3 separate regions of the Homo sapiens genome follow, and regions 2 and 3 are each linked to region 1. The links come from fine-mapping of genetic effects on gene expression. A gene starts in region 1. Each other region holds a variant in brackets. All regions are shown on one strand. Distances are from middle to middle. Region 1 holds the start of ABCC6 (ATP binding cassette subfamily C member 6). Region 2 has its middle 450 kb from the start of NPIPA7. Region 3 has its middle 65 kb from the start of NPIPA7.

Region 1 (6,695 bases):
AGGCGTTCCCTGTTGGATTTTCCAAAGAGCGACAGCCACGCTGGAGGTACACAGGACTATGAGGGCGAATCCAAGCACCTGAGGATACAGGCTTAGATAAGCTTGGGGGGCAATAAGAGAGGTCACAGCAAACTGGTAGGCGGCCCCATGTCCAACTGGGAGCTGGTTCTGCAACATCCTGGCTGATACTGAGTATACCAGGGTCACCAGCTAGCAACGTGCCAATGTGAACAATGTGTAAAGGGCATTGCAGATCACTCCTGACCTGTAACTGTCATATAAATAATGCACAGGAAGGGCTTGAGCCAACCGAGTGTTTTCCAAAATGCAGGAAGTGCTCCAATCGTGCACATATGAGATGACTGTGGGTATGGAGAAACAGCAGGAAATGAAATGTACTCACCAGGTAAAAAACTATCCTTTCTCCAAGTCATTTTTCAATCCCTGCTATGAAATCAAGGAGCAACTCTCTGTTGGGCCAGTAAGTCTCTAGGGTCTCTCTAATATATTTTGGTTTCTCTATTGAATAAAAGAAAGGAAGAAAATGAGAGAACGTGGGCACACCAGAGGGAAGGCCAGAGCTAGGTTACGTTGGAGGAACTGCTCAAAGAACCTCAGTTTAAAGCAGAAGTTGGCAAACTATCAATCATCAAAGAAAAACAAAAAGCATATGTCATGACAGGTGAAAATTACATGAAATCCAAATTTCAGTGACTACAAATAAAGTTTTATTGAAACGCAGTCGGCCGGGGGTGGTGGCTTACACCTGTAATCCCAGCACTTTGGCAGGCCAAGGCAGGCAGATCACCTGAGGTCAGGAGTTGGAGACCAGCCTGGCCAACATGGCGAAACCCTGTTTCTACTAAAAATACAAAAAAATAGCGAGGTGTGGGGGTGGGCACCTGTAATCCCAGCTACTCGGGAAGCTGAGGCAGGAGAATCACTTGAACCCAGGAGGCGGAGGTTGCAGTGAGCCGAGATCGCACCATTGCACTCCAGCCTGGGTAACAAGAGCAAAACTGCATCTCAAAAAAAAAAAACAAACAAAAAAGTAACACAGTCATGACTATTGTCTATGGTTATGACTATTGCGTTCATTCTGGAATGGCAGAGTTCAGTGTTCGGAAGGAAGATTACCTGGCTCACAAAGTCTCAAATACTGTGTACCGCTTGGCTCTTTAAGTTTGCCAACCCCTGGGTTGGTGGCGGGTGATAATGTAAAAATTAATACAATGGCAGAAGAATGAATGAACTCTGAAGAACATTCTTTGGAAGCCTACAAGAATGGAGTAGAAGAGGATGGATGAGCAGAAAGGCTCACACTTGGAATGCCAGTGTTTATTTAACACACTAAGGTAAATACATATCACATATAAAAATTGTCCTATAATACAGCCAGTGGGGGAACATAAAAATAAATGCATAACTTTTTAAAAGGTTCATCCTAATGTGGCTCTAAAATTACCTTGTGTATCCAAGAGTCTACATGGTATGTTTTGGAAAATGCCAGGTTATGGTAGCTATAAACTGTCCAGGAACATGGGAGTGTATGCGTATGTTTGCGCATGCGTGGATTTTCGGAATTACAAAATCTGTTTGGGAGAACCGTGTTCCACTGAGTTGACCTCTGTAGCCTTTCTAATATTGCTCTGTTTGATTAACAGATTCCCTTCTACACCCCGATAGGAGGAGTCTACTTTAAGACTTCACCAGGTTCCAGCCTGTCCCCTGCCTCCCCCGAACATTGCCTGGTTCCAGGCTCCCAGGGATGGCAGCTACCATCTTGGCTTTGAAGAGTGGGGACATCCGGAGGTAGCCCCGGCCATGGTGGTGGATGAAGAGGAGGTAGATGGGACCAAGGACCCAGAGGTACATGGGGGGTACCCAGACCCCTGCTGTTCTCAGGAAGCACAGGCTCAGCAGGCTGGTGGCGGCAGGTTCAGGCTCTGTCTGGTTCCAGACCTGAGGGAACACAAAGAGGACCCTTAGGATGGTACAAGGCAGGGGTCCCCAGCTCACCTGCCCAGGGGGCCAGGCAACTTTTTGGATCTTTAACATTTACACAAAAATGTACCAAGTACTCTTTGGAATACCTACTAATTCTCAATTCCTTTCATCCTGACATTAACCCTAGGTAGTTGCAATTATATTGATTTGCAGATGAAGAAGCTGAGGACCAGAGAGGTTGAGTAACTTTGCTGACTTTACCCAGCTGAGGAGTGGAAGGGCTGGGATTTGAACCCAGGGAACTGGGCCATGTGGTCTAGGAGACCTGGGCTCCATAATCATTGCTAGGCATGGACTGTCAGTTAATCCTTATAACAACTCCAGGACGCAGACAGTACTGTCTCCATTTCAGAAACCAGCAGACTGAGGCACCAGTCGGGGAACTGCCTCCCCCAGGGACACACAAATGGGAAGTGGCAAAGCTGACTCTGACCCAGGCTTATCTGACCCCAAACCTCGTTCGACTGGTGGTCTTGATGTATGATTTGTTTTTATTTTTTATTATTAATTAATTTATGTTTTAGAGACAGGGTCTCACTCTGTTGCCCAGGCTGAAGTGGCACAATCAAAGCTCAACAAAGCTTCGAATTTCCTGGGCTCAAGCAATCCTCCCACCTCGGCCTCCCAGAGTGCTGGGATTACAGGCATAAGCAGCCTCACCAGGCCTGGCTAATTTTTTTTTTTTATGTTTTGTAGAGATGGGGGTCTCTCTATGCTGGTCTCGAACTCCTGGTCTCAAGCAATCCTCCTGCCTCAGCCTCCTAGGTACTGGGATTACAGGCAAGAGCCACCGGCCCAGCTTGATCTGTTATTTTCATCTCAGCAGGTCTGCTGGTCCTATCTAACCCTAGAAGAAATTTGAAGTTTAGTGGACGTGGCCTCTTCAATTCTCTCTCCGCTGTCTTTTTACTCCTCCTGGTTTCACAACTCACCGGCTGTGCAAACTTTAACCTCTCTGTATCTCAGTTTCCTTCCCTGTAAAAGGGGGAAAACGAGACTCTACCTCTATGAGTTGTATTAAATGGATTAATAGCAGCAAAGTTCATAGCAGCATGGCACAAGGTTGGGCACAAGGCTAGGCACAGAGAAAGCCCTCAGTTCATTGCCAGTTTATTGCTTCAACTCCCTGGCCCTCGAAATGCTGGCAGTTTGCAACCCCCACCCCCACTCCATGAACTCCACTCCCTGGAGTCCTTTGCTAAGAGCAATGGAAAAAGAAACCAGAGAGGTAAGGGCTCTCCGGGGGTAGGAGGGCTTGGGGGACCCACTAGCTTTATGCAAAGAAGAGTCAAAGCCCCTAGTAGCTGGGAGGTCTGGTGGCCCCTTAAATAGAGCTGGGCTCTCGGCTGCTGGCTTGGTGAAAGAAATCCAACCCGCTGCAGTGAGGGGGCCGGAGTAAGTCTCCTCGCTTCCCGGGTCCAGGAATTTGGGGGTCTCTCCTCTCCCCAGTATCGCAGCCCGAGAGATCTGCAGCCAAACCAAGCCTGGAAAAGGAGAGTGGGGCGCGATGGGGGGCACTCACCCCCTGCCCCGCGCAGGGCTCAGCAGGCGCGGCCATCGGCGCCTTCTGTCGTCGTGGGTCCCAGCGTCTGTCTGTCGCTAAGTCTCTGGGCAGACTGCTCGGCCGCGATCCTGCCGGAGAAGAGGCGGGGCTGGGCTGGTCGGGCTGGGCTGGTCCGGCTGGGATTCGAGCTCCGGGATCGGGAGGCCCCGGGCAAGGTCCAGCTGCGCGGCGGGAGTGAGGCCACGGGAGGTGAAAACAGGCGAGGTGGGGGATGGGGGAAGAGAGGCGCTCGGGGAGCTGGGACGGGCACCGGGTTGGGGGGTCCCGGAACCCCTGAAAGTTCAGTGACACCTCCATAGTTCCCTCTTCCCCCTGCAACAAGAATCACTCCAGACTTCCTAAACACTTTGGACCCAGCAATTTCCAGGAGTTCATCCTGATGAGAGAACTGAAAGGTGTGCACACGTTAGTAACAAGGAGGCCTGGTGACCGCCTAAGCGTCCAATCGCGGGGACCACCGGGTCGAGGCCGAGAGGATGGAGACCGCGTCACAGGCACCTCGCTGCTGGAATGGAGGGTGGTGGGGAGAACTTAGAAGATTATGCAATGGGCTGGCAGGGCTATACCCAGCCGCCCTGGTAAGCAGAAACTCAAGAAACCTCTAGGGTCCTGTTTTCTGGTCGTATGATCCCAGGAGTGCACATGGGCCCCTCGGGTGTCTGAACAGAAGGGCATAGGAGGGAGGGCCGCAGCCCTGCAGTCTTACTCTGCTGGTGTAGCGGTCACCTGCCAACTCCCACCCCACCCTGCACCGCGGGCTCCTGAGTCGGCAGATTAAGCATTTTATAAATTCTATTTTAAATACGTGTTTTAAACTTGTCAGATATTTGTCTTCATTTCAGTCCCTGCGCCTCTACCTCTTGCTGTGGTCGCTTATTTAACACTGGGGGGCTACGTTCTGCTAAGTCCCAGGGAGAGACTGTTCCTAATATCCGAGGGAGATATTATTCCTAATATCACGCTGGGTGAACACCACGTGTGTACAGCCTCTGATACGATTGGTAATATCCAAGGGAGATATTATCCTAACATCCCAGTGGGTGAACACCATGTGTGTAAACGCTGTGGTATTATTAGAAATATCCAAGGGAGATATTACTCCTAATATCACAGTGGGTGTACATCCTGTGATATTATTCGTAATATCTGAAGGAGATTTTACTCCTAATATCACAGTGGGAGTACACACTGTGATATTATTTGTAATATCCGAGGGAGATTTTACTCCTAATATCACAGTAGGTGTACAACCTGTGATATTATTCATAATATGCTAGAGATATATTACTCCAAATCTCATGGTGGGTGTACACTCTGTCATAGAATTCGTGATATCCTAGGGAGTTATTACCGCTAATATCACAGTGAGAGTACACCCTGTGATATTATTCATACTATCCTAGAAAGATATTACTTTTAATATCACAGAGGGTGTACACCCTGTGATATTATTCATAATATTCTATGAAGATATAACTCCTGATATAACCGTAGGTGTATACCCTGTGATATTATTTGTTATATCCTAGGGAGATACTACACCTAATACCACAGTGGGTGTACACCCTGTGATATGATTTGTAATATCCTAGGGAGATATAACTCCTAATATCACAGAGGGAGTACACCCTGTAATATTATTCATAATATCCTAGAAAGATAATACTTTCAATATCACAGTGGGTGTACACTCTGTGATAATATTCGTAATTTCCTAGGGAGATACTACTCCTAATATCACCTTGAGTGTACACTGCGTGATATTATTCGTAATATCGTAGGGAGCTATTGCTTTTAATTTCACAGTGGGTGTATACCCTATGATATTATTCATAATATCTTAAGAAGGTAGTACTCCTAAAATCACAGTGCCTGTACACACTGTGATATTATTCATAATATTCTAGGGAGATGTTACTCCTAATCTCATAGTGGGTGTACACCTTGTGATACTATTTGTAATGTTCTAGAAAGATATTCCTTTTAATATCACAGTGGGTGTACACCCTGTGATATGATTCGAAATATTCTAGGGCGATATTACTCCTAATATCCCAGTGAATTTACACCATGCGTGTACACGCTGTGACCTCCCAGAAAGATATGACTCCTAATATCACAGTGGGGGTACACCCTGTGCTATTATTTGTAATACCCTATGGATATCATAATATCACAATGAACGTACACCATTGTGTACATGCTGTGATATTATTTGTAATATTTTTGGGTGATATTACCCCTAATGTCACAGTGCGTGTACATCTTTTGATATTATTTGTAATATTCTGTGGAGATATTGCCCCTAATATCACAGTGGGTGTATACTCTTTGATACTATTCGTAACATCCTGGAAGATATTATCCATATTGTCACGGTGGGTGTACACCCTGTGATATTATTCGTTATATTCTGGGGATATACTATTACCCCTAATATACTGTGGGTGTACCCCCTGTGATATTATTCACTATATCTTGGAGATATAATATTACCCCTAATATCACAGTGGGTGTATACTTTGTGATATTATTCATTATATCCTGAAGAGATATTATTTCCTTTAATATCACAGTGCATGTACACCTTGTGATATTATTTGTTATATCCTGGGGAGATACTACTATATTACTCCTAGTATCACAGTGGCTGTACGCCTTGTGATACTATTCATTATATCCTGGGGAGATATTATTACTCCTAATATCACAGTAAGTGTATACCCTGTGATATTATTCATAATATCCTGGGAGATATTACCCATATTGTCACAGTGGGTGTACATCCTGTAATATTATTTGTAATATCCTGGGGAGATATTATTACTCCTAATAGCACAGTGGGTGTACACCCTGTGATATTATTGGTTATATCCTGGGGAGGTATTATTATTCCTAATATCACAGTGGGTGAACATTCTGTAATATTATTCATTATATTTTGGGGAGATATTAATTCCTCTAATATCACAGTGGGTGTACACCCTGTGATATTATTCATTATATCCTGGGAAGATATTAATCCCTCTAATATCACAGTGGGTGTACACCCTGTAATATTATTCATTATATCCTGGGAAGATATTATTTCCTCTAATATCACAGTGGGTGTACACCCTGTGAT
Region 2 (10,587 bases), 610 kb after region 1:
GCACTTGGTATTGTAAGTGCTATATACTCAAGAAATGGCACGTTTTGTTAACTTCATTAGAAACAAGTATCTCTTTTCAGTCCAGTCCTGTGTCATCATTGTCTTCATCATCATCATCATCATTGTCATCTTTGTTTTTTAGAGATCGGATCTCTTTCTCTGTCTCCCAGGCTGAAGTGCAGTGCTGTGATCATAACTCATTGCAGCCTCGAACTCCTGGGCTCAAGCGAATCCTCCTGCATCAGCCCTTGAGGGTTCAGGACTCTCAGCCCTTGAGGTGCTGGGACTGCAGATGTGCACCTTCATGCCTAGCTAAGTTTTTATTTTTTAGAGATGAGGTCTTAGTTGTGCAGGCTGGTCTTGAAAGTCTGACCTCAGGCAATCCTCCAGTCTCCTGAAGAGCTGGGATTACGAAGATGAGCCACTGTACCCAGCTTTGTATCTTCTAATAGAAGCTCGCAATCCTTGATTGGAAACCCTTGGGGACACATGTTTTAAAATTCAGAATGTTATGGAAATTAGAAAGGTAATGTGGAGCATAAACTATACATTCCACAACATCCCACTTTCAGTGGGGTCTGCAGTAGCACTTCCTGGTCAGCTCATTACTGCCGTTAAATATGTGGATGTTCATGCTAGGTGGGATGTGAGATAAATAAAGGACATAAATAGCCTCATTTCAGTTCTGGTCAAGTTTTGTTGCCAAATGAATTTGTGCCAACCTTAATTTTAAAAAATTTGGTTTCCAGAGCTTTTGGGAATTCAGAAACCCATGCAGTCATTAAAAATTCTCCTGTTCTGTGTATTTAAGCTATTTCTAGTGCTTGTTTCTGCTTTAAGCTGTGCTTCTCCTACATCTCTGTGTTTCAGTCAACCTTTCAAAGCTTTCTTTGGACTCAGCTCTCCTCCTTTGACTTCCTGTGTTTTACTTACCCCTCTCATCTCTGTCTCTATTCTTTACCCCCTTCTGGACTTCTTCTCCTTCGGGAGTTCACACACTACTGGCATGAAGACTGTTTTCATTTTCTTTGTTTTTTCCCTCTGCTACATTGTCTCTAGATTCTCATGCCTCTCTCTCTCCTCCTCTGTGGATTTCAGAGTCTTGCTTGTGCAGTGAGGGCTCCCTGCCTCTGTTCTTGTCTAAGTATCATCTCCCATTTGATATACCCTTTTATTTCTGGTGAAGATATTTTATTTTTCATAAAAACATCATTGTACAATGCTCTATAGAGGAAGAAAATTTCCTTTAATGTCCCCCAAATGCTATGTGGTTTAACAGTCATCTTCCTTTAAAAAACTGAATATGTAATTGATAATAACAACTGATTTCTTGTGAAATATAGCATTTATGTTTTAAAAATTTATTTGCCTTTATTTTAACTAAAGGCAAGTCCAGTTTAAACCTGTACTTTTTGCAGTTAGCCAAATCAAAGCTATCATAATTCAAAGACAATAAAATAAAGTGCTAAATGGTGGTGCTGATTCTTTGTTTCTGCCCTTTCATTCATTGGTGGTGGCGCTTGGCTCCCACCCTAACGACCTTACCACCCTCTTTCTCCTTTTAATTTCTTCATCTCTTCCAGATATACCTCTTTGTTCATGCTTTCTTTTACAATGCCAATATCATTATGATAATTTATTGAGCTCTTACTGTGTACTAAGCACTTTACATGGATCATTTAGTTTCATCCTTTCAGTACTCCATGAGGCAGGGTAAGGACTCTCTTAATCCTTATATTTCAGATGAGAAAATTCAGGCTGAGAGATAAAGTGACTTGCTCAAGATTACACAGCTAGTCAGTAGCAGAAATGGAATTCAAACACTATTGCATTAAATTTTTGCATTAATCCTTGTTGCATTAAACTGATTCCAAAGCTTATGATTTCAGTCACTATGCCTTTATTTCCTCCATTGCAGCAGATACTGCCATTCCTGTTATTGAATTCATCTTCTCTTTCTCGATTTTTACAGCGTCTTAAATCTGACTCATCTCTGCTGCCCTCTTTTCAGCATGCCATTATCTTAGGTGGTTTGTCCACATTTACCCATTTCCATGGTTGAATTGTTGGTCCTTATCTTTTCCCAATGGCACATTGAGATTATTTTATAATCACCACATACTCATGGTGGACTATAGGACCAATCCCAATTTCAAATATTCTTGTCCTCACAAACCACTGAAGCATCCTGGAAATAAGATGCTGGTCAGCAGAAAGAGCATCTGCTTCCTCTGTTGCTAGACACCTGCCCATTCAAAGTCATGTCTTGGCAGAAGGCACCATTCAAAGTCATGTCTTGACAAAATGGCTTCATGTCATAAAGCCATGGTATCTGTGTTACCTTTCGGGTATCCGTGAATAATTGAACCTATGTTTGTTATATTAGTTAGACTTGCTGTGCAGCAGTAAACCAAATTGCCACATTTCTAATTTAATGTAACAAAGACATATGTCTCTTTCACCTCAAAGTCAGAGGTGGTTTAGGAGTCTCCTTGGCTTTTCTCCTTGAACAGTGACTCGACTCAGGGATCTGGGATGTTTCCATTGTGTAACTCCGTCTTTTTTTTTTTTTTTTTTGAGATAGAGTCTCGCTCCATTGCCCAGGCTGGAGTGCAGTGGCGTGATCTCGGCTCACTGCAAGCTCTGCCTCTTGGGTTCAAGAAATTCTCCTGCCTCAGCCTCCCAAGTAGCTGGGATTACAGGCGCCCACCACCACGCCCAGCTAGGTGTTTTTTTATTTTTTTTTATTTTTAGTAGAGACAGGGTTTTGCCATGTTGGCCAGCCTGGTCTTGAACTTCTGACCTCAGGTGATCCACTCACCTTGGCCTTCCAGTGTGCTGGGATTACAGGTGTGACCCACCACACCCAGCAGCAACTCCATCATCTTAAAGTTCCTTGCTTCCAGCCACCTGGATAGGAGAGTGGGTGGGACCTATTCACAGACGCTTACCCACAAAGAACAGTCATTATCATGACTACAAAGACATATTCATTGAGATGATTTGTCCAAGGTCTTCCAAGTTAGTAAGTGGTAGATTCAGAAGTAACTACCTTGACTCTTTTTTCCATGATAAGTTTTAGTAACTAGGGATATTTTATCTGTGTTAATCCTTCCTGGCTTGATTTATTTAATTCACAATGAGTTATTGGATTTTTTTTCTTTTTTTCTTTTCTAATAATTCTGCCAAAAGTTCCAGGGAGGGTTCCCTTGGGTAGGCTTGGGCCATATGTCCATCTATCCTCAAACCAATCACTCTGGCCATGACAATATGGCATTCTGTTTGGTCAGGTCAGTGTTGTGCATCTGATTCTAGAGAGGAGGAAATGGATTATGGGGCACCTTCACCTCTACCATATGTGGTGGGAACAGTGGAGAGCTGTCTCCCAAAATAAAGCCAGGATGCTGTTATTAAAAGAAAAAGTAGCAGATGTCAGGCAGTCAAATCAAGAGAAGGACTATCAAGTTGAACAACTGAATGAAGAAGGAAATATAAAGGAGAATTAGTGACTAAGGAAATTAATCAATGAGAAAATAAATGAACAAATGATGCTTCTTTGATGGCAGATGAGGGAATCCTCCCAAATGGGGAAAAGTGAATTAAAGGCAAGCTGATGCCACACTGAACATAGGTTTTGAATGTTGCATTGTTTTGTGGTAGGTTCATCTTGGTTAAGGTGAATCTTGGAGGGTCCAGAAACTTTTTGGTACAAAAATGATTATGTGTTCCCTGTGCACCTTTGACTTTTCTCAATCTCACTGGAGTGGGAGCAGCTTTCAGCTGTTGACCTGCTACCCTCTGTCTTAGTCCACCTTGTGTTGCTATAATGGAATATCTGAGATTGGGCAATTTATAAAGAAAAGATGATTATTTGGCTTATGATCCTGGTGGCTGGAAAGTCTAAAATTAGGCATCTGCATCTGGTGAGGGCTTCAGACTGCTTCAACTCATGGTGGAAAGTGGAGGGGGAGTGGGTGTATGCAAAGAGATTACATGGTGAGAGAGAGAGCAAGAGAGAGAAACCAAGGAGGCCAGGCTCTTTTTAACAACCCACTCTCAGATGAGCTAATCCATTCCTGAGAGAGTAGGAGCTTACTCATTCTTGAGAGAGACATTAATCTATTCACAGGAGATCCATCCCCGTGAACAAACACCTCCCATTAGGCCCCACTTCCTGATACTGCCCCACGGGGGATCAAATTTCAATGTGAGTTGAGGGAGACTAACCACATCCAAACCACAGCAGCCCCACAAAAGAAACTCCATAAAGGGAAGGTAGTTTCTTCCTCCCCATCCCCAAGCCTTAACCTCTCTCCTACAATTTCTGTAGGCCTCCCCCTCCTCCTTGGAGAATGTGTTCCTATCAGCCGAGCTGAAAAA[C/T]AGCCAGGAGGCTCATCTGCGTTCGCCTCCGTAGGCAAAGTGACTTCTGCAACACCAAGCCTAGAGTGCGTTTATCTCTCCCTGAGTCAAAGAGATTTTGTCTATAGGCCTTTCTGCTGTGTTCCTCCAGAGAGAGGTAAACTGCCCTTAAGTAATTGCTGAAGAAGGCATAAACCAGGGAAATTTGATTTGAGCATGCAATTTGAATCGGGAAATGCTCATATAAATAACCGGAGCAGCTGAATGCGGCGCGTTTGTGCTTTATAGATTTTTTTTTTTTTTTTTTTTTTTTTTAATCTCAGGGTCTTCAGAATACAAGTTCTGCTGCAGCAGCTTAAACCACCTCAGGTCTTTGCACTTTGGCCTTGTCCTAGTTTGGTACTGTTAACTGCCAGGCTAGAGTCTGGCTAAGTTGAAGTTGTCTTATTTATCTGTATCTTTGGAAAGAAAAAAAAATTGCTTGAACACCCAAACAACATTATATCATAGAACAGCAACACAGTCTTTAAAAAAACAAACACTTTTGAACCAAGAAGGAGTTTGGAGTCATTTAGTTCAACTTCCCCAATGATGGAATAAGGAATTCAGAGATGGTAAGTCACTTTCTGGGTTAACTAAGATTTTGGAAGTATCATAATCAGCTTTTGCTGCAGCAAAAAACAATTCCTAAATCCAAGAGCTGTAGGTTTCTAGCTTATATTATATCTGTGCCAAAGGTCACCCATGGCTCTCCTGGGCTGGGCTGAGCTCTCTCCTCTTGTATTCTCAAGGAGCAGCCACTCTTGGCGGCATGCTACTCTCATGATAGATGACAGAGGCTGAAGAGCACAGAACCAAATTTCAGGAGTTCATTTATAGCTACTGATTGGATATGGTGATTGTCATATCTGTTCACATTCCATCAGTCAAAACACGTCCCTTGGCTGCCAAGCCCAATGGCAATAGGGCAGGGATGGGAAGCATGGCTAGAGTGGATAGGGTGCAAGTCATTGTGAGCAAGTGATACAGTCCACCACTGGAGAGTGGAGAAACTCTTGCAGTGATGAACGTCCAAGAAGAAATGTGAAAACTGAGAAAGTCTTTGATGTTTCCTGAATCCACTTATTCTTTTAGTGTTACTGATGTTAATGAATAACCACATTCACCCAGTGATGTAAGCTTAATATGTGGGTGTCATTCCAGATCCTCCCTCATCTCTGCTTGTTACATCCAATAATCAACCAAACTCTTTCCTTATCAGTACTTACCAAACATGCCTCAAATTTCCCCCTTCTTTTCACACTTCATTTCCCAGGTATTTTGCCTACAGGCTCTTTCCCTCCAATCCATGCACTGCACCATGGCCAGAGCCACTTCCTCTCATCCTATCTAGGCCACTTTCTTGGGTAAAGTCCTTCCACACTTATAAGGATAAAATGCCATTCTTCTAATGTCGCCTTAAACATTCAGTTCCTGCTACTCCCTCCCCACCTACAGCTGGCCCTGGGTTCAATATTTACTCATCTAAGAGCAGCCAGTTTGAATATTAACCAGGTCAGTATGGAAGCAGGACTTGGGACATGCTCCAGTCTCTGCTGGGATTTGCTAAGTAGGTGAGAACTAAATAAGAATTGATTATAAGTCTCAGAAGGATGGGAGGAGGAAAGCCAAGCTTCTATAATCAATTCTTTGTTTATAGAGGAGGTGATCCTTCATTTTCTCTGAGGGCTCAGCAGAATAATGGACTTCTTTTTTCCCAACACTAGGGTCCAGAAAATATTACTCGTCACCTCCTACAATGTAAGCCCCATTGAGTATCCCAGGATTCTGTGATGATTTAACTATGAATCACCCACTCCCAGGTATTGGAGAGTTGACTCTTGCTTTGATTTCACTGAGATTTGGGATCATCCTGGCCGTCTTTCCTCCATCCTCTATTAATGAGTCACTGGACTATGCTGGAATTAGCTGGATATTCCACATTGTTTATCAGTGGCTGTGTGCTTTTGTGGCATGTTCAACCATTCTTTGTGGCTATAATGCATTTTATGCTCCAATCCATAAGTCCTTTACCCCTCATCCTGATTTTGATTTACTCCTCTTGTTAATCTAGAAAACTGCTATTCAATATCATGAGCCTGGCTCACAGCATCTCTTCATTGAAAGCTCTCTTTCTGGAGTTTACACACTACTGGCATGAAGACTGTTTTCATTTTCTTTGGTTTTTCCCTCTGCTACATTTTCTCTAGGTTCTCAAGCCTCTCTCTCTCCTCCTCTTTGGGTTTCAGAGTCTTGCTTCTGCAGTGAGGGCTCCCTGCCTCTGTTCTTGTGTGAGTATCATCTCCTATCTGATATGTGTGTTTCTGGTGAAGCTATTTTATTTTTCCTAAAAACACCATTGTACAATGTTCTTTAGAGGAAGGAAGTTGGAGTTTTTTACATTATCTTTTTTAAAAAATTTATTTTTATTTTTATTTTAAGTTCTGGGGTATGTGTGCAGGTTGTGCAGGTTTGTTACATAGATAAACATGTGCCATGGTGGTTTGTTGCACCTATCAATCCATCACCTAGGTATTAAGCCCAGCATGCATTAGCTCTTTTTCCTAATGCTCTCCCTCCCCCCACCCCACCCCCCCAACAGGCCCCAGTGTGTGTTGTTACCCTCCCTGTGTCCATGTGTTCTCATTGTTCAGCTCCCACTTATAAGTGAGAACATGCAGTGTTTGGTTTTCTGTTCCTGAGTTAGCTTGCTGAGGATAAAGCCTTCCAGTTCCATCCATATCCCTGCAAAGGACATGATCTCATTCTTTTTTATGGCTGCATAGTATTCCATGGTGTATATGTACCACGTTTTCTTGATCCAGTCTATCATTGACGGGCATTTGGGTTGATTCCATGTCTTTGCTACTGTGAATAGTGCTGCAATGAACATACGTGCACATGTATCTTTTTTTACATTTTTTTTTTTAGCTCCTATGCTGTCCTGCACATTATCCCCTTCATTCACTTAGTTAATTAATATTGGTTGACAGTTTACTATGTGCCAGGCACCATGCAAGGCACTGGGAATGCAACTGTGAACAAGAGTGACAAAGCCCCTGCCGTCATGATACCAATTGACTAGGGGGGATTATGGCATCCAACAAACTCACATGAGTCAGGCGGTTACCAATGGGGTGAGTGCTGTGGAAGAAATAAATAAGGTGATGGGCTGGAGAGTAACTGGGAGAGGTCACTTGGATCGTGAGGTCAGGACCACCTCTTTGAAGAAGTGATGTTTCAATTGAGGCCTGAAAGATGAGAAAGAACTAGGCTTGGGAATGGATGAGGGAAAGAGTAAGTGCAATGAGAACAAGGGCACAGGCTTGGAGGCAAGAAAGTGCTTGAGGGGCCTAAGTCTTAGCCAACAATCAGGAGTGTGGTCTGAGATGAGGTTATAGGAGTGGGTGTGGATAGAACATGTGAAAACTTGTAGGCTATTTTAGTAACTCTAGGCTGTATCTAAGAAAATGAAAATATATTAAAGGATTTTAAGCAGAGGAATAGCACAACATGATTTACCATTTCAAAAGACAACCCTAGATGTTGTGTGTATTAAAATGGGAAGCAGGGATAGACACAAAAAGTTCACTTTTTTTTTTTTTTTTTTTTTTTGTAAGGAGGCTTTTGCAGTAACCCAGACAAAAGCAGGTGCCTTAGACTAGGGTAATGGCCATGTGCTTACAGAAGAGTGGAAGTCAAGACCTACTTTGGTGATAAAACAAACGGGACTTGTTGATCTATCGAAGATGAGTTCTAGCAGAGATAAATCAAGGATGACTTTGAAAGCAAGGATGGTTTTTGCCATGAGCAACTGGGCAGATGCAGAGGCCTTTTACTGAAATATGAAAACTGGCAGAGGAGCATGAGGTTGGATAAAATGAGAGCTCTTTGAAGACATAACAAATCTGAGATGCCCATAAGGGGGCGTGATGACTAATTTTATATGTCAACTTGACGGGGCTAAGTGGTGCCGAGATAGCTGGTAAAACATTATTTCTGGGTGTGTCTGTGAGAGTGTTTCTGGAAGAGGTTACTATTTGAGTCAGTAGACTGAGTAAAGATGATCACTCTACTGAATGTGGGTTGGTATCATTCAGTCCACTGAGAACCTGAATAAAAACCAAAGGCAGAGAAAGGGTGAGTTTGTTTTCTCTGCTTGAGCTGAGACATCCATCCTCTCCTGCCCTTGAGACATCAGAGTTCCAGGTTCTTGAGCCTTCAGACTCAAACTGGGATGCACATCATTGTTCTCCTGGTTCTCAGGACTTTGGACTTGCACTGGAATTACACCCCAGCTTTCCTGATTCTACAGTTTGAAGATGGTAGATTGTGGGACTTCTCAGACTCCATAATGAGGTAAACCAATGTCTCATATCTTTCTTTTTTTAACTTTTATTTTAAGCTCAGGAATACAAGTGCGGGTTTGTTACATCGGTACATGTGTGTCATGGGGGTTTGCTATACAAATCATTTCATCACCCAGGAATGAAGCCTAGTATCCATTAATTATTTTTCATGATCCTCTCCCTCCTCCCACCCTCCGCCCTCCAAAAGGCCCCAGTGTGTGTTGTTCCCTTCTATGTACCTATGTGTTCTCATTATTTAGCTCCCACTTATAAGTGAGAGCATGCGGTATTTAATTTTCTGTTCCTGAGTTAGTTTGCTAAGGGTAATGGCACTCACTGATCATTAGAGAAATGCAAATCAAAACTGCAATGAGATACCATCTAAACCAGTCAGAATGGCTATTATTAAAAGGTAAGAAAATAATAAATGCTGGCAAGGTTGTGGAGAAAAAGGAATGGTCTGGCGCAATGGCTCATGCCTGTAATCCCAGCACTTTGGGAGGCCGAGGTGGTAGGATCATGAGGTCAGGAGATCGAGACCATCCTGGCTAACACAGTGAAACTCCGTCTCTACTAAAAATACAAAAAATTAGCCAGGCATGGTGGCGGGAGCCTGTAGTCCCAGCTACTTGGGAGGCTGAGGCAGGAGAATGGCATGAACCTGGGAGGCGGAGCTTGCAGTGAGCCAAGATCACGCCACTGCACTCCAGCCTGGGTGACAGTGTGAGACTCCATCTCAAAAAAAAAAAAAAAAAAAAAAAAAAGGAACACTTATACACTGTTGGTGGGAGCATAAATTAGTCTAGCCATTGTGGAAGACAGTATGGTGATTCCTCCAAGACCTAAAGACAGAAATACTATTTGACCCAGGAATCCCATTACTGGGTATGTACCCAAAGGAATATAAACCATTCTATTATAAAAACACTTCCTTAACCTGCACAATGCACATGTACCCTAAAACTTAAAGTATAAAAAAAAAAAAACAAAAAAACACTTCCACACACGTGTTTATTGCAGCACTATTTACAATAGCAAAGACATGAAATCAACCTAAATGCCCATCAATGATAGACTGGATAAAGAAAATGTGGTACATATATACCATGGAATACTATGCAGCCATAAAAAAGAATGAGATCATGTCCTTTGCAGGGACATGGATGGAGCTGGAGGCCATAATAAATCTTCCTGTGTATCTCTATATATCCTATTTGTTTTGTTTTTCTAAAAAACCCTGACTAATGCAGAGGCTCAAGCCATCTGTCTTCCACTAGACTTTGCTGTATCACTAATGTTGAGCACAGTGCTTGACATGTAACAGGTACTAAGAAAGTGTTGAATGAGAGAATTGAAATGAGATGCTTAAAAGCTACAGATGACTAATGGCTTCTATGACAACGGACAATCAGAGTCCCTAGCAATGGCTAATTAAACCATTCCAATCTGATGTCCAAAATATTGTGTGCTAGAGACCCCCTTTCTTTTCCCATTAATTGAACAGGCCCTGTCTTTTTTGCTCTTGTAGTCAATTGTTCTTCAAGTGTAATTAGCCCTTGCATTTTGACAGTAAATGAGACTCCAATACTTCGATAAATGGCTTGTTTCTGGAAAAGGAGTATTTGTGAATAGAAAACTCAGTCGTCTTCCCCCTTTCTCCCACCTCTTCCTCTTCCCCCTAATTTGGGTGGCCCTTGGCCTATGTTATTACCTTCAGAAAGGAACAGTGTTTCTTCGAAAAGGATAGCAACACAGAAAGAATAGTTATCATTCATTGAACACCTGTTACATGGCAGGTGGGTACATTCTATGCAATGCAACAATCCTGAAAAGTCATTTT
Region 3 (10,587 bases), 220 kb after region 1:
TAAACCCATTTTTCCAACATTGTTGTAAAATATTCTGTTCCCACCTTTCCCACAATCAGCTTGCCTGACCCCACCACAGGGTGTGTCATCTTGTGCTTCTGGCACACACACACACACACACACACACACACACACACACACACACACTCTCAGAGCCCTGCCATCTGAAGGCAGCCAGCTCCAGAAAGGCCAACCCTTAGCTGTAACTCAGCATAGCACTGTTCATGATCTTTGGTTTCCATTTCTAGGCTGGTTTCCTTTTTTGTTTTGTTTTTTCCTTTGCCAAGACTGTAGTTGAAATAGGATAAAGGATTTATTTTTCCATAACAAGGTAGGAGAAAGGGTGCTAGGTTACAAGCACCCTGTCAATATCAGAGTTGGAAGCTTCTTCCTACCATCAGGTGTGTGTTGTGAAAGGAACGAGGGGTTCAGGCAAGTATTTCCCAGCAGGTGGGAAGGGGTCTTGATGGGATGGAAACTAGGAAAACAAACCAGATTCCCTGAGGGAAAATCAACTGTTCCTGAACTGTTATCAGTGTGGGAGTAGGGTTCACAGATTTCATATTCTAAACATGTTTGTGTGTGGTGTGTGCACACACACCTACTATGTGGCAGAGCCTGTCATAAGTGGTGATGGATTCCTGTAGATATAGTTTGCTGGAGCTGCCATAACAAAGTACTACAGACTGGGTGGCTTAAATGACAGAGATTAATTTTCTCACAATTCTGGAGGCTGGAAGTCTGAGATCAGGGTGTCAGCAGGGTTGGTTCCTCCGAAGACCTCCTCTTGGCTTGCAGATGGTCGATTCTGGTGTGTCCTCAGATGGTCTTTCCTCTGTGCCTGTCCATCCCTGGTGTCTCTCTGTGTGTCCTAATCTCCTCTTCCTATAAGAACACGAGTCTGATTGGATTAGAGCTCACCCTAAATGAGCTAAATAGGTTTAAACTTAATCACCTATTTAAAGCCCCTATCTCCAAATACAATGACAGTCTGAGGTGCTAGGGGGTTAGGACTTCAACATATGATCCATATGGTTGAAGGGCTTCAAATTCATATATATATATATATATATATATATATATATATATATATATAGAGAGAGAGAGAGAGAGAGAGAGAGAGAGAGAGAGAGAGAGAGAGACAGAGAGACAGAGAGAGAGAGACAGAGTCTCGTTCTGTCGCCTAGGCTGGAGTGCAGTGGTGCGATCTTGGCTCACTGCCACTTCCACCTCCCAGGTTCAAGTGATTCTCCTATCCTGGCCTCCCAAGTAGCTGGGATGATAGGCATGCGTCACCACACCTGGCTAATTTTTGTATTTTTAGTAGAGATGGGGTTTCGCCATGTTGGCCAGGCTGGTCTCAAACTGCTGACCTAAGATGATCTGCCCACCTCGGCCTCCCAGAGTACTGGGATTACAGGCATGAGCCACTGTGCCTGGCCTCAAATTCATATTTGAACATTTATTCAAATTTGAATTTTAGGGGGACATAATTCAGCCTGTAGCACTGTCAACCTAAAAGGAAGAAGCTGAGGCAAAATTAATGTAAGTAAAGACTCTGTTTGGGCCAAGCTTGAGGACTGTAGCCAGGGAGCGTAGATTCAAGTTTCCCTGAATATACACTCCAATTAGCAGCAGTTACAAGTGGATTTATAAAGGCAAAAAAGGGGGACATGGAGTGGGCTGGTACACAGTTGGTTGTCAGGAATTCTCACTGGTTTTCAGAAATAACATTGACGAGTGATTGGCTATACATTGTTAAGCTATGAGGTGTGGGTTATAGCATCCAGTGGGGCATTATTAGATTAATTTATAGCTACTTGTGGCAATGGCAAGCAGTTTTAAGAAATGAATACCGAGCTCAAAGGGGGTATGTAGGACATGATTGCTATCTCATTCTATTGCCTCTCTGGGCCTAATAATTTAAAAGGCTTGTATTCCTCAGATGAAAGTTCTGTTCTTTTCTCAGCACCTTGAATGGCTGGAGAGAGCACCACCCCATCCTTGACCATGCTGAGTGCTGGCTGGACTTCAACTGGGCCAGTACTCCCTTTTCCCTTGTGGAAGGTCCCCTGATTAATGCTTACCTGAACGCCTGCTCTTCCTTCAGTCCCCAGTTCTCTGCATTCCCCAGCACTGGGAACAGAGACAGCATGTCTGTGTTATACAATAGGGAAGAGTATGGGCTCTGGGTTTAAACTTTGACTCTGCCCCCTTGTTAGCCCAGCGACTGTGAGCAAGTCATTTCACTTCACCCAACTTGTTTTCCTTTTTGTACATTGGAGGTTACTAAAAGCACCTTACCTGTCCAATTGTAGAGAGGATTAGGTGTATTAATGGGCATGGCACAGTAAACACTCACAAAATGCTAGCTACTATTAATTGTCAAGATTATGTTGGTTGCAAGGAGCAGAAACTCATATGGAAGTCATTTAGGCAATAAAAGGGGATAATTTATTGACTCTCATAACCAAATCCAGGAAGGTAGGAGAGCAGTTGAGTGGCAGGGGCAACTGGAAAGAGACCATTCCCCATGTCTGTCTGTCTGTCATATCTTTTTTATTTTTATATATGTATTTTTTTACCATGGTGGGTTTTTTTTTGTTTCTTTTCTTTTTTTGGTTGTTTTTTCCATCCTTGGCTAGAACCATGGCTGCCAACAAGCTTCTCTGTTTCATAATGGGAGACCTTCTCATGTGGTTATGATGTGAAAAAAATCCCAGGGAAGGACTCTGATTGGTTCAGCTCAGGTCACATAGCCACCCACGTGGCCAGGTCAGGGGCTGGGGTGCTTAGGTGGGGCAGGGGGTTCTGGGTAGATAAAAATAATTAATGCCTTCTGCCTTATCTAAATGTTCTTTGTACTATGCCTGGCACTTGGTAGAAATTAAACAAATTCCCCTTTTTCCCTTTCTGTTTGACCCTCATGTCTACTTTTTATTACATAAAAGAGTAATCCAGAAAAGAAAGTCAGCTCATTGGAGACACTGGGTAGGGAGAAAAAGCTTTTTATAGAATATTAGGTAGGAGTAGTGGCTTAGGATGGTAAGAGCTCTGCACGAAAGGAAGACATTACGGTCTAAGGCCACCTGGGAGATCTGAGTCAAGCAGCTCTATCCCTTCCTGAGGACAAAAGAGATTTCAGGCAATGACTCATTTGTTTGGAGAGCTAATTGACAAGACATATTAAGAGTTTTAGCAATTGTTCATGCTTTTTGATCCAACAAATTCACTTCTAGAGTGTCAAGAACTGTGCTGGTCTAAGATATTATCCTACATGGAGGCTAGTGAGTTTTATGGATGTGGGCAGAAGACATGAGACTCTGGATTGAGAGATAAAGGACTTTATTTTTCATGGCACAACAGGAAGCTTGAGCTTCATGTCTGCACCAGTTCCCTTTGACCCCCAAGTCCCTCAAGGGTGACACAGGTTGACATGGTTTGGCTGTGTCCCCACCCAAATCTCATCTTGAATTGTAGTTCCCACAATCCCCATGTGTCATGGAAGGGACCCAGTGGGAGGTAATTTAATCATGGGGGCAGTTATCTTCATGCTGTTCTTATGATAGTGAATGAGTTCTCACAAAATCTGATGGTTTTATAAGGGGCTTTTTCTTCTTTTGCTCATTCTTCCCCTTTCTGCCGCCATGTGAAGAAGGACATGTTTGCTTTCCCTTCTGCCATGATTGTAAGTTTCCCGAGGCCTCCCTGAGTCAATTAAATCTCTTTCCTTTATGAATTACTCAGTCTAGGGTATGTTTTTCATTTGTTTGTTTTTTTGTTTTTTTTGAGACAGAGTTTCACTCTTGTCGCCCAGGCTGGAGTGCAATGGCAGGATCTCAGCTCACCCCAACCTCTGCCTCCCAGGTTCAAGCAATTGTCCTGCCTCAGCCTCCTGAGTAGCTGGGATTACAGCCATGTACCACCACACCCAGCTAATTTTGTGTATCTAGTAGAGATGGGGTTTCTCCATGTTGGTCAGGCTGGTCTTGAACTCCTGACCTCAGGTGATCTGCCCACCTCAGCATCCCAAAGTGCTGAGATTACAGCCATGCCTAGCCTTTTTTTTTTCTTTTTTTGAGACAGAGTCTCACTCTGTCGCCCAGGCTGGAGTGCAGTGGCGCATTCTTGGCTCACTGCAACCTCCACCTCCCGGGTTCAAGCGATTCTCCCACCTCAGCCTCCTGAGTAGCTAGGATTATAGGTGTGCACCACAATACCTGGCTAATTTTTTGTATTTTAGTAGAGATGAGGTTTCACCATGTTGCCCAGGCTGGTCTCAAACTCCTGAGCTCAGGCAATCTGCCCACCTCGGCCTCCCAAGGTGTTAGGATTACAGGTGTGAGACACCACACCCAGCCTTGGGTATGTTTTTATTAGCAGTGTGAGAAATGAGTAATACATGGATGGATCCAGGTAGAATCTGTGCCTGCAGTGGATTTGCATCACACCTGAGGAACCCCAAGTTTAGGAATCTTGGTCTTTTCAACCTTTACCCTGGATGGAGGGAGACATTGTCATTATAATCCTTTCTTTTTCTTTTTCTTCTTCTTTTTTTGTTTTTTGTTTTTTTGAGGTAGAGTCTTGCTCTGTCACACCAATGTTGGAGTGCAGTGGAATGATCTTAGCTCATTGCAACCCCTGCCTCTTGGGTTCAAGCAATTCTCCCACCTGTCTCCCAAGTAGCTGGGATTACAGGCGCCCACCACCACACCCAGCTAATTTTTTAAGTGTTTGTAGTAGAGATGGC[A/G]GTTTCACCATATTGGCCAGGCTGGTCTCGAACTCCCAACCTCAGGTCATCTGCCTGCCTCAGCCTCACAAATTGGTGGGATTACAGGCATGAGCCACTGCGCCTGGTCCGGAGATATTATTATTATAATCCTAATCAGCAAATAAATCTGTCTTCTACTATACTAGCCCTATCTTCTAATGCTATTAGCTATACAAACATCCTTATAAAGACGGTCTAGAACAAAAGCTGACACAAGATGTGCAGAAATGTAAGAGACACATGGGGAATTGTTGCACAGCATAGAGAATCTTTCCTAAGGAAACTACATCTGAAACACACACAGAAAATGTATTCTTAAAGCAACAATAGTTCAGCATTAGGGGAAGAGGTTAAACAGACTGTTGTTGGGATACTCTTCTGTTTCTAAACATGTTTCTGAAGATCTTGGAATGGGAAGTGTAAACGTTCAACTTAAAATGTAAAGTGGAACAAAAAGCTGCAAAACTTGAATATATGTTTTTATTAACTATGTACAGACATCTATTCTAGGAAACCTGGGAGGGAGACGTGCTAAAATGTTCATAGTCTTTCTCTGGGCGATGAGTCTAGGATCCACTGTTTTTCTTCATTTGGAATGTTCATAGTCCTCCTCTGGGCAATGAGTCTAGGATCAACTGTTTTTCTTCATGTGGAATGTTCATAGTCTTCCTCTGGGCAATGAGTCTAGGAGCCACTGTTTTTCTTCATTTGGAATGTTCATAGTCCTCCTCTGGGCAATGAGTCTAGGATCAACTGTTTTTCTTCATGTGGAATGTTCATAGTCTTCCTCTGGGCAATGAGTCTAGGAGCCACTGTTTTTCTTCATGTGGAATGTTCATAGTCTTCCTCTGGGCAATGAGTCTAGGATCAACTGTTTTTCTTCATTTGGAATTTTTTTTTTTCAGTTTTTCTATAATGAACATGTATTACATTTATAATAGAAAATAACAAGATAAATTATTTCTGAAAGCAGTGCCCAGCATCCAGAATTTGGCAAAAACAGGAGAAGAAAGCATAAAACAAGCAGGGAAAAAGGTTTTCAGTTAAATTAGATGTCCAATGAAGAGATCAGCTTGGCTGCAAAATCTCTTTTTGACAGACAATTAGTTCTGGGCAAGTCAAATGTTTCAACAGTGCGTTCTTCTGGGGCAATTAAAGTAATTCATACTTGATGTGCGGAAATGTGGTAATTGGGAAAGTTCCCCAAATGGCAGTTGAAACTGGGCTGGTTGTGTTTGGAGAAGTTAAGTCATGCCCTTGACAAGCCATCTATCTGAGTCTACTGAAGAGGGCTTGGGCTGGGTGATTTTAAGATGGAATTTTCCACTGGGCATAGGAAGTGATGTTGGGAATGGACTAGAAGGGTCAACAGTGACAACATTAACAGCATTTATTGTAATATAAATACAGTTGGCCCTTGAACAACATGGATTTGAACCGCATGGGTCCACTTATACATGGATTTTTTTCTGTTTTTGCCACCTCTGAGACGGCGAAACCAATTCCTCCTCTTCCTCCTCTTCCTCAGTCTCCTCAATGTGAAGACAATGAGGATGAAGACATTTATGATGATCCACTTCCACTTAATGAATAATAAATACATTTTCTCTTCCTTATGATTTTCTTAATCATATATTGTTTTCTCTAGCTTATTTTATTGTAAAAATACAGTGTATAATCATATAAAATACAACATATGTGTATATTGTTTGTGTTATTGGTAAGACTTCTGGTCAACAATAGGTTATTAGTAGCTACGTTTTGGGGGAGTCAAAAGTTATAGGTGGATTTCCAACTGTGAGGGGGTTGGCATCACAGTCATTCATGGGTCAACCATTGTGTCAATAACAATCATACCACACATATTTTGAGTGCCACATGTTGCACTAAGCACTTATGTATCTATTAATTTCTACAACTATCCCGTGCAATAGATACGATTGGAGTTTCCGTCTTACTGATAAGGAAACTGAGGGCCAGAGAGGTCAATTGAGTTGTCCAAGGTCACACAGCCAGTTAGTAATGGAGCTGGAATCTGAATCCATGCAATCTGACCCTTGTTCAATGCTCCTAGACTTATGTGCTGGATTTTTTTTTTTTTGAAATAACAATGTTTTATACCTCTATCTTTACTTTCCTAGATAAGGGCATCTGATTTCCCTCCATGGCAAGCAAGTTATGTTGTATTTGCTACATTTGAGAGGGAAAAAAGCTGAAGTTCAGAACGGATTAGAAATTTCCCAAGGCCACACAGTGAAAGAATAGAAAGTTTCCTTTTTTAAATGGCGGAGCTTTTATATCAATGCTGTTTGTAAATTTTAGTTGGCAATGTCTGTTATATTCCATGAAACTGAATGAGAGGTGAGGTGGTATATTAGCCAAAACTCTCTCAGCTACATCTTGCTATTGTTCCATGCAACTTCAAAGCCCACAGATAGACTGGACTTCAAGTATGGCTGGATCCAGATGCTTAAATGATATGCTTTGAAATCTGTCTGATCTCTACTTCTCAGCTCTCTTTTCATCCATGTTGGCTTCATTATCAGGCCCTTTTCTTATGCCATCAGCAGCTGCTGACTTACCTCCTACCAGCTTAGTAATCCCAGGGGAAAATGAACTTACCTTTGCCAAAAGCACTGGCATAAGAAGCTGACTCTCATTGCATTGTAAGAGTCAGGTGCCCATCTCTGAACGAATTATTGTGGCTAAGGAAGTAGAAGAGGGTGATTAGTCAGTCCTGATCATGTGCTCAGCTCTAGCTTTAGAAGATGGTGCTATCCAAACTCCATGAATGAACAGTGAAGGAAGGACCATTGTTCAAAAGTAAGTGGAAATGCTGTTTCCAGGAAAGCAGAATGGGAGGAGGAAGTGGGGGGAGGGGGGAAGGGATTCAAGGGGTGGGAGCTGGAATGGAATTAGCCCTAAATAGTTGGAGTTTGGAGGGTGTAAGTAAGTGTGAGCTGAATGCCGAAAGCAGAGTTGCAAGATGGTGTGTCAGCCCAGTTCTGAGAAACAAACTCCCATACAGGATTACACATATGTGATTTTTATTAAGGGAAATGCCCTTGAGAGAAAGCAAAGAAGGTGCCACATAAAGCTGGGAGAACCTGAGACAGTAATGCAAGTCTGACTCTGAGTAAAAGAGAGAGGAGAAAAAAGTTAGGGTGCGAACACCATAGGGAAGTCCCTAAGCCAAAGCCGGGGACAGGGGAATCCTGTGTCTCCCGGGGAGGGGTCTGCTTTAGTGTCCCTGCCATGCTCAGTCATTAGCCAGGAGCACCTCATGGAAGGAAGCATATGGATTCCCCAGCGCAGCAGCTGGGGCCCTGGTTAATTACACTCCCAGTAGAGGGAGGTCGATGAGGCCCATTCTCAGGGCCACCACATGGTGAGCCATGCAGCAGTGGCCTGGCAGAACATTTGTCTGGGTTCATACAGTATTTACATTAAAAAAAATCAGGGCTGGGTGCTGTGGCTCACACCTGTAACTCCAGCATTCTGGGAGGCCAAGGCAGGCAGATCACTTGAGATTAGGAGCTGGAGACCAGCGTGGCCAACAAGGGGGAAACCTCATCTCTACTAAAAATACAAAAATTAGCTGGGTATGGTGGTGCACCCCTGTAATCCCAGCTACTTAGGAGGCTGAGGCAGGAGAATTTCTTGAATGTGGGAGGAGGAGGCTGCAGTGAGCTGCGATCATGCCACTGCACTCCAGCCTGGGCAACAGAGTGAGACTCTTGTCTCAAAAAAAAAAAAAAAAATCAGTTGCCAGCATTCAACAAACTGTGTATTTTACATCTTTAAAAACCCCTGGATTTCCTGCTTCTCTTTAAAAAATAGTGGCAGTTTGGCAACATTGGGAGTCCATTCCACAAATCTTGCAAAATTGAGTCCTCGCTGCCTCCTTAGATAAGGTGTGTGCTCTCTAGTTTGCCACAGTCTCCACCAGACCCAGTTGCCCTAATCTGTACTCTTCACTCATTTGTGTTACTTGTCTGCCCATGTGTGCATTTAAGTTTGCAACCCTTGCCTTAAATTCATCTGAGAAACAAACTATGGCAGTCAGGTTCAGCCATAGAATCTAATGGGAAGGAGCAAAGCTGGAGATTGAGCGACTAAGCTAGAGGTTGATAAAGCAGGAATAGAGCAGGTAGCTGGAGTCTGAGCAGACAGACTTCAGGGCTTGTCTGCCTTCCTAAGAGCTCCTTTGCTGGCTGGGTGAAGTCACTGAGAACCTAAGCAGAGGGTGTCAGTTCTAGCCTTCCTGGAGAAATCTTAGTTGAGATGGATGTTTAGAGCTGGTGGACACTGCCTTTGTGTCAAGCCAGTCTAGGAGTCACAGCAATATTTGGACACTGGTTGAAAGTTGTTCCATTCCATCCCACTTGCTCAGCAATTTGGACAAGTGTGGGTTTAGGTTATTTTAATTGGTTAATACCCTTTTGTTTAGGTGCTCTCCTTTCCTCTTCCACATGGTTCAGTAAGGCTGCCAATTCTAGAGCTCTTTCTTCTCCTATGAAAGTCATGGATGTCTTAGGCTGGGTTTTCCCAGAGGCAGATCCTGTGATGAGGATTTCCATGTAATGGTTTATTTGTAGGGTGACTCTGGGAAGCACCAGTAGGAGAATGGGAGTGTATTAGTCAGGGTTCTTTAGAGAAGTAGAACCAATAGAATAGCACACACACATACACACACACATATGCATATACATACACACACACACACACACACACATATATAAGCATATGGGGAATCCATATGCTTCCTTCCATGAGGTGCTCCTGGCTAATGACTGAGCATGGCAGGGACACTAAAGCAGACCTCTCCCCAGGAGACACAGGATTCCCCTGTCCCCAGCTTTGGCTTAGAGACTTCTCTATGGTCCATATATATATATATATATATATATATATGTGTGTGTGTGTGTGTGTGTGTGTGTGTATACACACATATACATGTGTGTATATATACACACATATACATGTGTGTATATATACACACATGTATATGTACACACACATATGTGTGTGTATGTGTGTATATATATATATACACATACATATATGTATCTATATGCACTTTTATATACATACATTCACATACATATATGTATCTATATGCACTTTTATATATATGTGTGTGTGTGTGTGTATGCAATTATGGAGGCTGACAAGTCCTAAGATCTGCAGGATGAGTCAGTAAGCTGGAGACCCAGGAGACCCAGTGGTGTAGTTCCAGTCTGAAAACCAGCAGGCTTGAGATCCAGAAAGAGCCGTGTTTCAGTTTGAGTCTAAAGGCAGGAAAATTTTGACGTTTCAGCTTGAAGGCCCTCAGGCAGGAGGAGATCTCTCTGACTCAGGCAAGGGTTGGCCTTTTGTTCTATTTAGACCTTCAACTGATTGGATGAGGACCATGCACATCTGGAGTGCAACCTGCTTTCCTCCGTCTACCCATTTAAATGTTAATCTCGTCTGAAAACACCTTCACGGGAACACCCAGAATAATGTTTTACCAATTATCTGGGCACTCAGCGTCCCAGTCAGGTTGACACATAAAATTAACCATCACAGGGCAAAATGAGACAAGGAAATCTAAACCAGAATAGAGCAAGGTAATGAGTAAGTTACTTCTATGGGCAGCCGGGGCTTGGTCCTTTTGATGGGCTTTGGTTGATGGCATGGAACACACCTCAAATTGTCCCACCTGAGTGTTGAGAAAACTGAGATATTTATCTTTCATCACTCATCTGACATTGACCAAGGGATGCTCTCAGGGACTTTGACATCCTTGAACTTCTGGCCTGTCTTGCCGAGGC

Evidence for each region. PIP is the estimated chance that this variant, and not a neighbour inherited with it, causes the effect.
Region 2: its variant is the best candidate, but not a certain one, in a credible set for the expression of ABCC6 in uterus (GTEx, PIP 0.57).
Region 3: its variant is the best candidate, but not a certain one, in a credible set for the expression of ABCC6 in putamen (GTEx, PIP 0.68).

What each region holds. Positions count from the first base shown.
Region 1 is chr16:16,219,870-16,226,564 of GRCh38, forward strand. It overlaps ABCC6 (ATP binding cassette subfamily C member 6), which reads right to left and starts at 3,625. Exons shown (of 31, transcript NM_001171.6): 1 at 3,530-3,625; 2 at 1,780-1,962; 3 at 1-78. The coding sequence starts at 3,565.
Region 2 is chr16:16,824,966-16,835,552 of GRCh38, forward strand. No RefSeq gene overlaps it. Among named protein-coding and RNA genes, the nearest start is that of NPIPA7, 450 kb to the left of the region's middle. The variant C/T (reference allele first, on the strand shown) is at 4,381.
Region 3 is chr16:16,438,486-16,449,072 of GRCh38, forward strand. No RefSeq gene overlaps it. Among named protein-coding and RNA genes, the nearest start is that of NPIPA7, 65 kb to the left of the region's middle. The variant A/G (reference allele first, on the strand shown) is at 4,751.